4 linked regions of the Homo sapiens genome follow. The protein of the gene in region 4 interacts with the protein of the main gene of each other region in a pairwise test. Each region holds a gene or a part of one and is shown on either strand. Other genes may lie near its edges.

Evidence for each region. Proteins that work in one complex are often made in the same cells at the same time.
Region 1: the proteins of DRC4 (region 4) and NKAPD1 interact in binary tests that used the Homo sapiens proteins (3 or more experiments, as listed by UniProt).
Region 2: the proteins of DRC4 (region 4) and CCNG1 interact in binary tests that used the Homo sapiens proteins (3 or more experiments, as listed by UniProt).
Region 3: the proteins of DRC4 (region 4) and MAD1L1 interact in binary tests that used the Homo sapiens proteins (3 or more experiments, as listed by UniProt).

Annotation. Positions count from the first base shown.
Region 1 is NC_000011.10:112,077,299-112,080,798, reverse strand, and holds part of NKAPD1 (uncharacterized protein NKAPD1), read right to left. Parts: intron 2,585-3,500; coding exon 2,484-2,584; intron 391-2,483; coding exon 241-390; intron 1-240.
Region 2 is NC_000005.10:163,440,595-163,443,055, reverse strand, and holds part of CCNG1 (cyclin-G1), read right to left. Parts: intron 1,979-2,461; coding exon 1,725-1,978; intron 1,171-1,724; coding exon 1,092-1,170; intron 1,012-1,091; coding exon 913-1,011; intron 683-912; coding exon 491-682; coding exon of another isoform or gene 488-490; intron 1-487. UniProt on the Homo sapiens protein: May play a role in growth regulation. Is associated with G2/M phase arrest in response to DNA damage. May be an intermediate by which p53 mediates its role as an inhibitor of cellular proliferation.
Region 3 is NC_000007.14:2,222,946-2,226,445, forward strand, and holds part of MAD1L1 (mitotic spindle assembly checkpoint protein MAD1), read right to left. Parts: intron 2,606-3,500; coding exon 2,465-2,605; intron 1-2,464. UniProt on the Homo sapiens protein: Component of the spindle-assembly checkpoint that prevents the onset of anaphase until all chromosomes are properly aligned at the metaphase plate.
Region 4 is NC_000016.10:90,039,680-90,042,569, reverse strand, and holds part of DRC4 (dynein regulatory complex subunit 4), read right to left. Parts: intron 2,810-2,890; exon of another isoform or gene 2,271-2,809; coding exon 2,061-2,270; intron 101-2,060; coding exon 35-100; intron 1-34. UniProt on the Homo sapiens protein: Component of the nexin-dynein regulatory complex (N-DRC), a key regulator of ciliary/flagellar motility which maintains the alignment and integrity of the distal axoneme and regulates microtubule sliding in motile axonemes.

The DNA.
Region 1 (3,500 bases), on a different chromosome or scaffold from region 4:
ATGTATCTGTACTTCATTTCTTTTACTGCCAAATAATATTCCATTGTATGGATATATCGCATTTTGTTTACCCATTCATCAGTTGACAGACATTTGGATTACTTGGCCATTATTTTTTGGGGCCATTATTAATAATGCTGGTATGAACTTTTGTACACAAGTTTTTTGTGGGGACAATTAATTTTGATAAGTACACGTTCTCAGGCCAAATATTAATGCTCACAGGAATTAATCACAAACCTGTCTGGCATGTTTGCTTCATAATCATAGAACTTTTTATTCCAGGATTTAGCCTTAAGAAAATCATCTTCCAGTGTCCCAGAAATTTCATTCTTTGGCCTCCAATAGTATCTTTGACTTTCTTCATCAAAACCATCACTGCGCATCCGGCTAAAAGAGAAAGCAGAAGAACTTTTAGATGTAAAAGCAATCTGTGAGTTTACTTTATGGAACATCATGCACAAAACTCATGGAACAAGCTGAGGGGGAAGGAAACAACATGATACTGTTTAAAAAAAAAAAAAAAAAAGGCAAAGACATTATCTGCTCCTCTCTATACATTTGTGAAGTCCAGTGGAAGAAATCTGACCAGGCCTAGTGCAGTAGCTCATGCCTGTAATCCCAGCACTTTGATTATCTGTTCCTCTGTACATTTGTAAAGTCCAGTGGAAAAAAATCTGACCAGGCCAGGTGCAGTGGCTCATGCCTGTAATCCCAGCACTTTGGGAGGCCGGGGCGAGTGGATCACTTGGGGTCAGGAGTTCAAGACCAGCCTGGGGGACATGGTGAAACCCTGTCTCTGCTAAAAATACAAAAAAAGTAGTTAGGTGTGGTGGCACACGCCTATAGTCCCAGCTACTTGGAAGGCTGAGGCAGGAAAATTGCCTGAACCCGGGGAGGCAGAGGTTGCAGTGAGCCCAGATCATGCCATTGTACTCCAGCCTGGGCAACAGAGTGAGACTCCGTCTCAGGAAAAAAAAAAAAGAAAAAAAGAAAAAAATCTGACCATTAGTACCCATCCTATTGCAAAGCATAGAGAGATGAAATCAACTCTGGACTATGTCATGTGATAGTTCACTCGCTGATTCTCAACTAGGAGGGCATGCAAAGAGGGAAGCAGAACATAATCATAGCAAGGGACACTTCAAACTACCCTAGAGATTCTGAAATACACTTCCCTCTGTGCAAACCAGCAACTTACTATAGAGAGGTCCCAATAACAGTGGGAACAAGGTCTAACCCATGGGAATACTGGAGTAGGAAAAAAGTTGAGAACCACTGATCCAGCTTCTGTTTACCATTTCTACTAACTAGCCAGTAAGCTGCTAATCGGTTATCAAAAATTTTTAAGGGGCCAGGTCCAGTGGCTCACGCCTGTAATCCCAGCACTTTGGGAGGCCGAGGTGGGTGGATCACTTTGAGCTCAGGAGTTCAAGACCAGCCTGGCCAACATGGTGAAACCCTGTCTCTACTAAAAATACAAAAATTAGCCAGGCGTGGTGGCAGGTGCCTGTAATCCCAGCTGATTGGGAGGCTGAGGCAGAAGAATTGGCTGAATCCAGGAGGCGGAGGTTGCAGTGAGCCAAGACCACACCATTGCACTCCAGCCTGGGTAACAAAAGCGAAACTCCATCTCAAAAAAAAAAAAAAAAAAAAATTGTAAGGGCCTCCTATGTACCAGGTACTGGTCTAGCTGGCAGGAATATAGCAGCAAATGAGAAAATCACAAGCCCTGCTCCTAAAGAGTTTAAGTATTTCTTATATATGTAGCTCTTACACTTACAAGCGTGTAAGGATCTTCCCAATTATTCAAGCATTCCTAGGCCTCTCCACAAGGAAGATAACTAAGCCTGCATAATCCTTCATATTTACACTCAAGCTATTAAGGTAATGTGAAAAGGCTGTTGATCTGGTGAAGAGGGTGAATAGACAGGGTGAAGAAAAGTCTGAGGCCAGGCAAGTGGCTCATGCTTATAATCCCAACACTGGGAGGTTGAGGTGGGAGGACTGCGTGAGCCCAGGATTCTATACCAGCCTGGGGAACACAGCAAGACACCACCTCTACAAAAAAAAAGTAGCTAGGCATAGTGGCATGCACCTGCAGTTCCAGCTACAAAAAGAAAAGCCTGAAAGAATGAAAGATTAATAGAGAATAGAATGACTGATCAGCTTAGTGACCACAAGATTCCAGTATAAAATCTTCAGTTAAAAGCTATCAGGTAAGGTTAGAATCCACAGAACCCTACACATTCATAATTGTTCAGGTAGAATTTTTTAACTCTCCATTGTAAATAAGTACAAAGAGCAGGGCCATATGCGTCACAGCCATTATCTTTATGCCTGGGTCTAGATTTACGAAAGAAGGAAGGCTTAAGGACTCACAGAACTGAATTTATCCTTAATATACCAAAGTATTTTTAAACAAAAGTTGATGATTCTGAAAAAGATGAGAATTATTTTAGTTCTCAGAGCTGCAACTTCACCTTGAACTGCTGGGTAGCATTTTCCTTTTGGTCCCCCGGTAAGCATCTTCCATCTGTTTTTCCAGTTCTCTTATTTTCCACATATCTGATTCCTCCTGAATCTAGAATTTTTAAAAAGGAAATAAAAATAAGTTACTAAAAATAACTTTACATTACAGAAAAGTAACTAACTGGCCGGGCACAGTGGCTCACACCTGTAATCCCAGCACTTTGGGAGGCCAAAGCAGGCAGATCATGAGGTCAAGAGTTTGACACCAGCCTGACCAACATGGTGAAACCCCGTCTCTAATAAAAATACAAAAATTAGCCGGGCGTGGTAGCATGCACCTGTAATCCCAGCTACTCAGGAGGCTGAGGCAGGAGAATCGCTTGAACCCTGGAGGCAGAGGTTGCAGTGAGCCGAGATTGCACCACTGCACTCCAGCCTGGGCGATGGAGTGAGACTCTGTATCAACAAAAAAAGAAAAAAAAAAAAAAGCAACTAACTGAAAATACAATCTGACTAATTATTGGGCTACAGACTGGGCTATGATCAGGAACCTGGAAAACAAATTGGTTTCTCTAGAAAGTGGCTGAACAGTCCAATCCAGTAAATCTCAAATATGTGGAAATCTTCCCCAATAGAATTTTTAAACCGCTGCACAGACAAACATCACCTTATCAATCTTGCAATTATGCTGCGATTAGCAAATGATAATGCCACATTTCCAAAATGCAATATGATTTTAATTATATCATCTCAATTGAACCTTAAGCAATCTCATGAGGAAAATATAGCAGCTACCATTATTACATTTTACTGTAAAGAAACAAAAGCTCAGAGATTTTAACAAAGTCAAAAAACTAGTAAGGACAGGTCTTTAAACTCCCTAAGCTAAATCTCTTCTGGTAATATTATAATTTTTGTCAAAAATAAAATAAAATAAAATAATCAGTATGGCTGCTAGGGAATTTCTTGAAAAGCAGAATGTGATTACCCAAAGAACACATTTTATTTCTAAGTCTTCCTGCATAATT
Region 2 (2,461 bases), on a different chromosome or scaffold from region 4:
TTACAGGCGTGAGCCACTGCATCCGGCCTACTTTTTTTTCTTTTAAGTACAATATCCAAGTTCATATTGATTTTGCTTATAAGCTAACAGTCTCAAATTAGTTCATACTTGGTTCAGACTTTTGGTGCTGTTGTCCTGCTCAGCTTATGTAATTTTAAATCAGTCAGATACATACAGCAAGATCATGTGCAATTAAAAAAAAGCATGATTTTAGTGCTACAAGGAGGATGCTGTTCTCTAAGCTGAAAATTTAATGAAATGGCTAACGTATGTATCAGAGGTTGGATAATTCCTTACTCCTAAGATGTTGTACCTTGTATATAGTAAAGGCCTTCAAATATTAGCTGACTAGATCAGTGATGTCATCTCCCCCTTTACTATTCCAACTCCATTTTGTTTATTTTGAAGATAATTACTCTTCTTTAGTTGAAAATTATGGCATTGGAAAATGTTCTCTATCTGGAGAATAATAACGGACCAAATTTACCAGTTAAGGGACCATTTCAGGAATTGTTGGAAGGTGAGTTATTCTGTAGTAGCTATGCTTCAATTGCCGTGCAGTACGCCCAGAAACAATCCATTTCAACTTCTGAACATTTGGTTTGGAACACTTATTTGATGAATATTCAGTTAAACATTTGGATACAAGCTCTTGCCAGAAGGTCAGATCTCTGCCATTTATCTGTACATACATAAATTTTAAAAAATTATTACTCCAAGTAAGTCCCACCTTATTTAACTACATTAATAAATGCAATCCTATGAACATGTGTCTTTGCTCATTAAAAACATTTGAGGATAGCTACTTAAGTTTCAAATAAACATATGACATCTCATTTTACTTCAGGAGATAGAAGGGGTTTAGTTTCTTTTACAGCTGTTAATAGGATTTAGGCTATGTCCTTCACATACCTTGGAATGTTTCTGAAGACATTCTATTCCTTCTGTTAACTCTACACACTTCTGTGCTTGGATCTCTAATGCAATGATAGACAATGCCAACACAGAAGGCTAAAAGAGATAAATTTAAAGTAAATGCCAAATATAAAAACAGATCATATCAATAGGCATAATCTTTATAAAATATTTACCTTTGCTTTAGAAAATATGATCCTGCAATGACATGCCTTCAGTTGAGCTTCTAGTCTTTCAAAATTAATGCTATTTCTCCTTTAAAAAGAAAATGGTATTACTTTTATTAGGTAATACTACATCTAGTCAAAAGATGTTTTTAGAAAAACATTGAAGTCAATTTTTAAAGTAAAGCTTATGCACACTTAACATAGCAAATGAACTATTGAAAGGAATTCCCCTTCCATCAGAGATACTAACTTCTAAAGGCACCATATGGGAGTTTTAGATGATTTGGGCCAAAAAATTAAAATGAATAGTACTATGCCACAAATACAAGATTTATTTTCTTTTAGTTTTAATAAATATTTCAACATCCACTGAAGGTCCTTTTTTTCCATAAATTTGTGTTAGATGCTTTCCTACTAGGTTCTATAAAGTCAAAATGTACTTTAATCCCAAGAATTAGCTTTAACGAAGCTATTGACAATGGAACATTTTCTCACTTATGATGGACATTAAAGTTCAAGGAGCCACAGCTGTCATTTTACTTATTTTTATTAGAATTCTATGAGGATACTGATTTTATGCAATATCCATACAATACCATTCTGATTTCCAAATGTCTCTTGTTCAAAACAAAGGTCACTTACCTTTCAAGTGGCAAGTTCTCTTGAAGGAGTGAATAATACAGTTGCAGAAATTGAAAGGCAGTAGTAGCTTTGACTTTCCAACACACCTTCTCCAATACAATCTTTTCCATTCTCATCAAGTCTGAAACCGTAAACCTATATTGACTTATTCGGATCAAGTCAGTTGCCAATGGGACATTCCTTTCCTCTTCTATTGATTTTACAGCCAAATAAAAGCAGCTCAGTCCAACACACCCAAGGTGCTTGGGCTGTACCTAAAAAATCAAAAACAAAACCAGTAAGCCCATGACTCTACCTTATTTCAATTAAAACATAAAGGATAATCTAGAACTCCGACCCAACATTTTGAAAATGTATATTTGAGGTTTATTTCTCAGCTGTGATGGACTTAACACAATCCACTCATACCTAAACTATAGCCTGTCAACACTATGGACCCCACTTAGAACCAATTTTTGAGTAACTGGACTGAGTTTCAGTATAATGTTTGGCTCAGCATAGAAAAAGTGTGTTTTTATTAATCACTGTAGAACTATAAGTAAACATTGTTCTAGTTTGATCAAATAAGTTAACTAGTCAAAGATATATGAGGACTGAAATACTTTATGGCTTATTTACAAAATAAGCCATTTCTTTGCAGGATGTTGTATTTTTTCCAGGCTCTTGTCTTTGTGGGAACACATATAAAACAGTTTTAAAATACTATGGCATATACTGTTTACTCTGCCTCTAAGAGT
Region 3 (3,500 bases), on a different chromosome or scaffold from region 4:
ACCATGACGGTGAGCACTGTGCGAGGTCAGGGCTCCCAGGAAGGGCACTTGGCACAGATCACACACACATTTATCACACCGTCTGCTCAGCAGTTGCCTCTGCAGGGAGAGGGGGCATGGGAAATCTAAAATTCAGCATTGACCTTGGGGAGAAGCTGAGCTTTCATAGCACCAGCAAATCCTGTCTAATTACGCTCTGTCCGGCACTGAAAGGAGCTGGCACTCCCCCAGCGAGCAGACAACAGGGGCAGAGACAGGCAGCGTGGACAGGAGGCTGTGGGCAGAAGCAGTTTACACTGGGCTCAAATCTGCCACACATGCACCCCCTCTCACACAAACCACAAACCTCCAGACCCACCCCCCACGACTGGCCTTAGGGAGGCCGCGTGGCTCTCACTGGTTGGGATGGGACATGACCAAGCACCACGCTCAGACCTCCTGACTCTAATGACCCGCAGGCCCTCCAGAGTTCACTGCCAGGTACCGGCGTCCCAGGAGGTGAAGGCGGTGAGTCCTGGTGGAGCCCGGCACTCCGGGACCCTCTCACCCTGCCTTCCTCGGGAAGCACCAAGCACTCCCGGAGCCCCGGGTGGAGTACGAGCTTGTGCTGTCCTCATCCAGGGTACTCCAGCCCAAAACCCAGGAGAGCTGTGACAGAGGTGGCCGCCTTCTGAGAGAGGCTGACCCGCGCACCTCGGAGGGACTCCAGCCCTTGTGAGCTGCAAGGGCTGCCTCACAACAACCAAGAGACCCTTCTGTGATGCAGGACAAGAACTGGGGTTGGCACGGGGCTCCGCTCAGCACCATCACAGCCAGATGCGGCACCGGGCCTGGAACTGCCAGTCCCAGCGCAGACAGGGCAGCCAGCAGGTCTTTGGACTTCAGACACTTAAGTCTCGCCCCTAATAGGTATTTCCAGGTGGAACTCCAAGGAACAATTGGAAAACTACTGGTTCTGACTGTTCCTGGGGTCCCATGCAGCTGTGTCTGCGGGCAAGGAAGGACAGTCCTGTTAGAAGGTGGCTGGAGCTCAGCAGGGAGCCCCAGGTGTAAGCCCAGTCACCTGCATCCTTGGATTTCCCCAAGACAGGGTTCCCGGAGACCCTACAATGACCCCTCCCTCAATCCAACATTTGTGAGCACCCATAAAATGCCATAAGCTGTGCCACACAATGGAGATCCTGGGCAGAGTCGGGTGGGCCCTGCCCTCAGGGACTCTCGGCCTAGAGGAACTCCAACAGCTGCACACTGTCCCTCCTGCCTGACAGCCACAGCCATACCATCAGCATGCTGCCTCCAGACCAATGACCTGGTGGCTCCTCTCCACCCCTAACAAGGGAATCTCAGTAGTTAGGGAGACTCCTGTGGACTCTCCCTCCCCTTCCCACCAATTCCTCCAGTACTGTCCCTCCTAGGACCCACCCAGGCCATGAGCAAACGCCCCACCTCTCAGGGAAAACAGCTCTCAAAGCAGCAACGGAGCCAACCCTGAGGCAGTGGCCCCCACCCCAGCGGTGCCTCAGTCTCACTGAGCCCACACAACGCACACCGCAGTCAGGATCTGCAGGCCAGGGGCAAGCAATCCAACCAGCATCACACCCCGGAAGACGTGAGCTATTTTTCTAGGGCCCAGGAGAGTGTGTGAATACACCGCATGATGTCAGGGCGGGGCTGGACATCCACCCGCCAAGAGAGGGCACGGAGGCCAGGGAGACTTTCCGCCCAATACTCTGCCTGAACCTTGGCAGCATTTCCACAACTGATCAGCACTGACTGAAACCCTGGCAAAGTGCTGTTAATCAGAGCAGAGGGGATCCGCGCACTCAGTGGAAACCTAATTCCCTCCCCAAGGACAGGGTGTTTTCCCTGCTGCCCTGGGGAGCCAGGAGCAACACAGAGCCGCCATTGAGACCGGCACCCTTTGCTAGGGCCCTCCAACCCCAAGACCCAGCATGGACCCGAGACCCTGATCCACCCCATGACCTCCTAAGCCTGTCACTCCTACACCACTTGGCATTTCTGCCAGACCTGCATTCCAATTCTTCCAGAGGGAAGAGGAAACCAGGAGACCCAGCAAAAGAATCTGTGCCAGCACCGCAGCCTCAATGAACAGACACAGCAAGTGTTCCCATTTCATGCCACCCTCCTCTAGGACATCAAGCATAACTGATACCTGCCCCACAGCATGAGTGGCCTCAGAAGGAATGTCCTGGCAACCATGACACAGGGCGTGTCAGGCTTCCAGCCAGCTGGGTTCTCATTTCCTACGGCCTGGCAGGTACCGTGCACAGCCCCCTTGCTCCCAGGGACTGGGATCTGATTTCTTAAGACCTGGCAGGTACCATGCACAGCCCCCTTGCTCCCAGGGACTAGGATGTGATTTCTTATAACCTGGCAGGTACCGTGCACAGCCCCCTTGCTTCCTGGGGCTGTCTGGGCCGACCCTCGCCCCGCCTGAACCCACCTCGTAGTTCCTGGCACTGGTGCTGGCTGCTCTCTCCAGCTCCACTCGAGCCCTCTTGTGACTCAGCTCCATCTGCATTTTCTCCCGCTCCACCTGGATGAGGTGGGACTTCGAACGGATCTGCTCTGCTCTTTCCTCCAGCTGAGCAGGTCGCACCCAAAGAAAAACAGAATCCTCAGTGACGGCATCAAACCAGGTGAGTGACTCAGTGCAGCAGACACACTCCCTGAGGACCCATTCCCGCAGGTCCCGTGCTAAGTCTTGATGTGGCCCAGCCACTGGGCTCCAGGCTGGGGAACAGGGGAGGGGCAGGAAACGGGAAGGTGAAAAAGCCTGGGAAGAGGAAGACGTCTTTTGAGATGACATTAAGCATATTAGTGAAGGCAACGGCCTCGAATGCCACCCATTTATTTACCAGCCAACGGCTCCGTGGGTCGGAAGTCCAGACGTAGGTGGCTGCATTCTCTGACCAGGGTCTCCCAGACTAAAAATCAATGCAGTCGGCCAGGACATGTTCTCACGTGGAGCTCAGAGATGGAGAATGAGGTCTCCTTCCCGACTGGCTGCCAGCCCAGTACAGCCATCAACTCCTAGGTGCTGCCCACATCCCTTGCCACACGGCCCTCTCCATCTCCAAAGTCAACCACGTCCAATCTCCCTCATCAAATCCCTCTCCTGCTATGTCTCTTGACTGCTCGGCCTCGGACGTCTGGACTCAGACTTAAAGGGCTCAGGTGAGTACATCAAGCCCACCAGGGAGTGGATCAAGCCCACCCACGTAATCTCCCTATCTCAAGGTCAACAGATCTTAGACCTTAATTACATCTGCACAATCCCACAGCAATGAAACCTACTCAGTATTGGACTGAAACCTGGGAGGCAGTAGGAAGGTGAGTGTGCACAAGGAGCCTGGAATCTGGGGGCCCTCTCAGAAGCCTGCCTACCACACAGGGTTAGTGATTACAGGTGAGCTGAGCCTCTGGGGGCCCTCTCAGAAGTCTGCCTGCCACACAGGACTAGTGATTACAGGTGAGCT
Region 4 (2,890 bases):
GGTGCCCCTGAGGGAGGGCAGGGCACAGCCGTACCTTACAGACCTGGGCCAGCTCATACTGCAGGTCCTTGATGGTGCTGTTCTTCGACTCAAGAACATCCTGAGGAGAGAGAGGTGATGGGAGTTTGAGACTCATCTTTTGGCCGAGGCAACGGGAGCGGCCTGGGGACTCCAGTGGGCGTTCTGAGAGATCCAGCGAATAGCAGCCTGGTTTGATGGATGCATCCATCCACACAGGGTTGTCAGCAGAAAAAGGTCTCCAAGGGTGGAGAGAAAACAAGGAAGAAGCAGAGAACTGGGAGCTTGCACAACCTGCCTCTCCAGCAACAGTCCAGGCCAGGCACTGCCGCTCACACCTGTGATCCCAGCAGTGTGGGAGGCCAAGGAGGGCAGATCACTTGAGGTCAGGAGTTTGAGACCAGCCTGGCCAACGTGGCGAAACCCCGTCTCTACTATACGAAAAGTAGCCGGGCACGGTGGCTCACACCTGTGTAATCCCAGCTACTCAGGAGGCTGAGGCATGAGAATTGCTTGAACCTGGGAAACGGAGGTTGCAGTGCGCCGAGATTGAGCCACTGCACTCCAGTCTGGGTGACAGAGCAAGACACCGTCTCAAGAAAAAACTCAAAGAGCAGTCCAGACCACAAGAAATGCAGATGAGGTGAGGGCAGGCAGCGTGCAGCCACACTGTGGAGACTGGTCACTAAACACCACCTACATATTGCTTAAATTTCTTGAGGCTTGTGAATGTACTATCTCACTTTTTTTTCTGAGATGGAGTCTCGCCCCGTTGCCCAGGCTGGAGTGCAGTGGCGCGATCTAGGCTCACCGCAACCTCCGCCTCCCAGGTGCCAGGAATTCTCTGCCTCAGCCTCCCAAATAGCTGGGATTACACCCGCCACCAAGCCCAGCTAATTTTTGTATTTTTAGTAGAGACGGGGTTTCACCATCTTGGCCAGGCTGGTCTTGAACTCCCAAACTCGTGATCTGCCCACCTCAGCCTCCCAAAGTGCTGGGATTACAGGCGTGAGCCACCGCGCCCGGCTATCCCACTTTTTTGTAACAGAAAAAAGTAGTCTTCAGCAGCGCTGGCCCCGCCCAGATGTGGGCAAGGGTCTCACCACGTGGCGAGGCAGGGACTTCTTGGGCTCCTGCCTGTGGGGCACTGCTGGGCCCAGCCTGGCTTTAGAGCCGTCCCTGCTGCCCACTGACACAGCAGCCCCCTCACACCTGGCCAGCAGCAAACAGTGTCCCTGCGGGGGCCTCTGTCATTTCCCCAGAAGATTCCTCACTTAGAAGTCGAGGTAACAATGACCAGGAAAGGAGGGGTTGACCCACATTTAGCTCCATCCTCCATCCTCACCCTGGCGCGTGGGCGCAGCTGCAATGACCCTCACAGGCCACGACTGCTCTCTTCACCCTCATTTCGGTGGCTTAGCAGCAGGCTGGGTGCAGCCCTCAGCCAGGAGCTGGAAACACGCCTCCCCCACCTCCCAACAGTGGGACCCTCACTCCCTCACCTGCCTGTGCTCACTGGGCCCAGTGCTGAGCAAACAAAGATGAGTTTTCAGTCCCGGGGCCACAGTGCCTCTGGCCCAGGTGAGGCCCCTCCTATACAGCCTCACTACCTCAGGCCCTGAGAGCCAGGCCATCCCAGATGACCAGGGTCCCACAGGCACCACCGCCCACTGGGCCGGGACCCGTCGTTCCCCCATGTGCAAACACCAAGTCACCTCGGCCCCTCCCAGCCCCACCTGTGGACTCAGCCTCCTGGCGGCTCTCCAACCCTCTGCCCGTCCCCATTCTGTGCTGGCCCCAACCAGCCCCCTCCAGCCCTGTGCTCCCCATCAATAGCAGAGTGGGCCCTGATCTGGTTCCCCTGCCCAGCCCTTCCACAGTTCCCAACTGGCCCGAAACTGGCCACAGGAAACCCATGAATGCCCCTCCTCAGTGGCCGACCGAGGGGTCTCTGTGCCTATCCGAGGAGCAGCACAGAACTGAAGACTCTTGCCACAGGGATGAGGCCGCCCACTGGGGTCAGGAGCCTGTCTAGGGCCTACCTCCAGCTTGCGGGACACCAGCGTCAGGGCTGCAGGGTCCAGGTTAGAGGCAGCCAGGACCTCGTTGAACTGCACCTCCTTCTTCTCCACAGCGGCGCTCAGAGCCTGCAGCTTGCGTTCTAGCACGAGGTTCTTGAACCCTGTCTTCTGCTGCACCTCCTGGATGGCTGCGGTGAACTTCCGATAGAGCTCGTCCCGCTCCTGCTGCACCTGTAGGGACAGCGCTGGGGGTGGGCGATGAGGCCCCTCACCTGGGGACATCTCGCTGGGAAGATGCTGCCTCCCACCTCTGCACCTGCCTGGAACACGCTGCCTCCCAACAGTGCCCACTCCCACAGCACCGGGGTCAGTGTGTTGTCCACACTGCCTGCGCCCTGGCCCTTTGTAGAGCCATCCACGCAGTGGAAGGCAGGAGGAACACATCAGCATAAGCCCTTCTCTCAGGAAGGTGTCTCTGGAAGCCATAAGTGTCCTGGTAAGAGCTGAAGCAGCCCCACCCTGAAAGCTGCTTCATGGGTGGCCGAGGCCAGTCTTGCCCGAGTGAGGGCTGTGGGCTCAGGTGAGATTTGAGATCCAGGGCATCCAGCAGGCCGAGCTTGCAGGTGGGGCCCCTTGGAGGATATGCTCCCTTGGCCAGCCCCAGATCCTGGCATCACATGTGCTGTCCGCCCCACAAATGGTGGATCTGGAGCACGGCCTTGGAGCCAGCTACCTGCCAGCCAGTAAAACTGTTCTTTTTTATCTCCTAATTCTTCTACTTATTAATTGTGCATTCTAAAAAAATCTAGACTTTGTTGAAGACTATAAAAAAGTGAACACCCTGAGCAGCG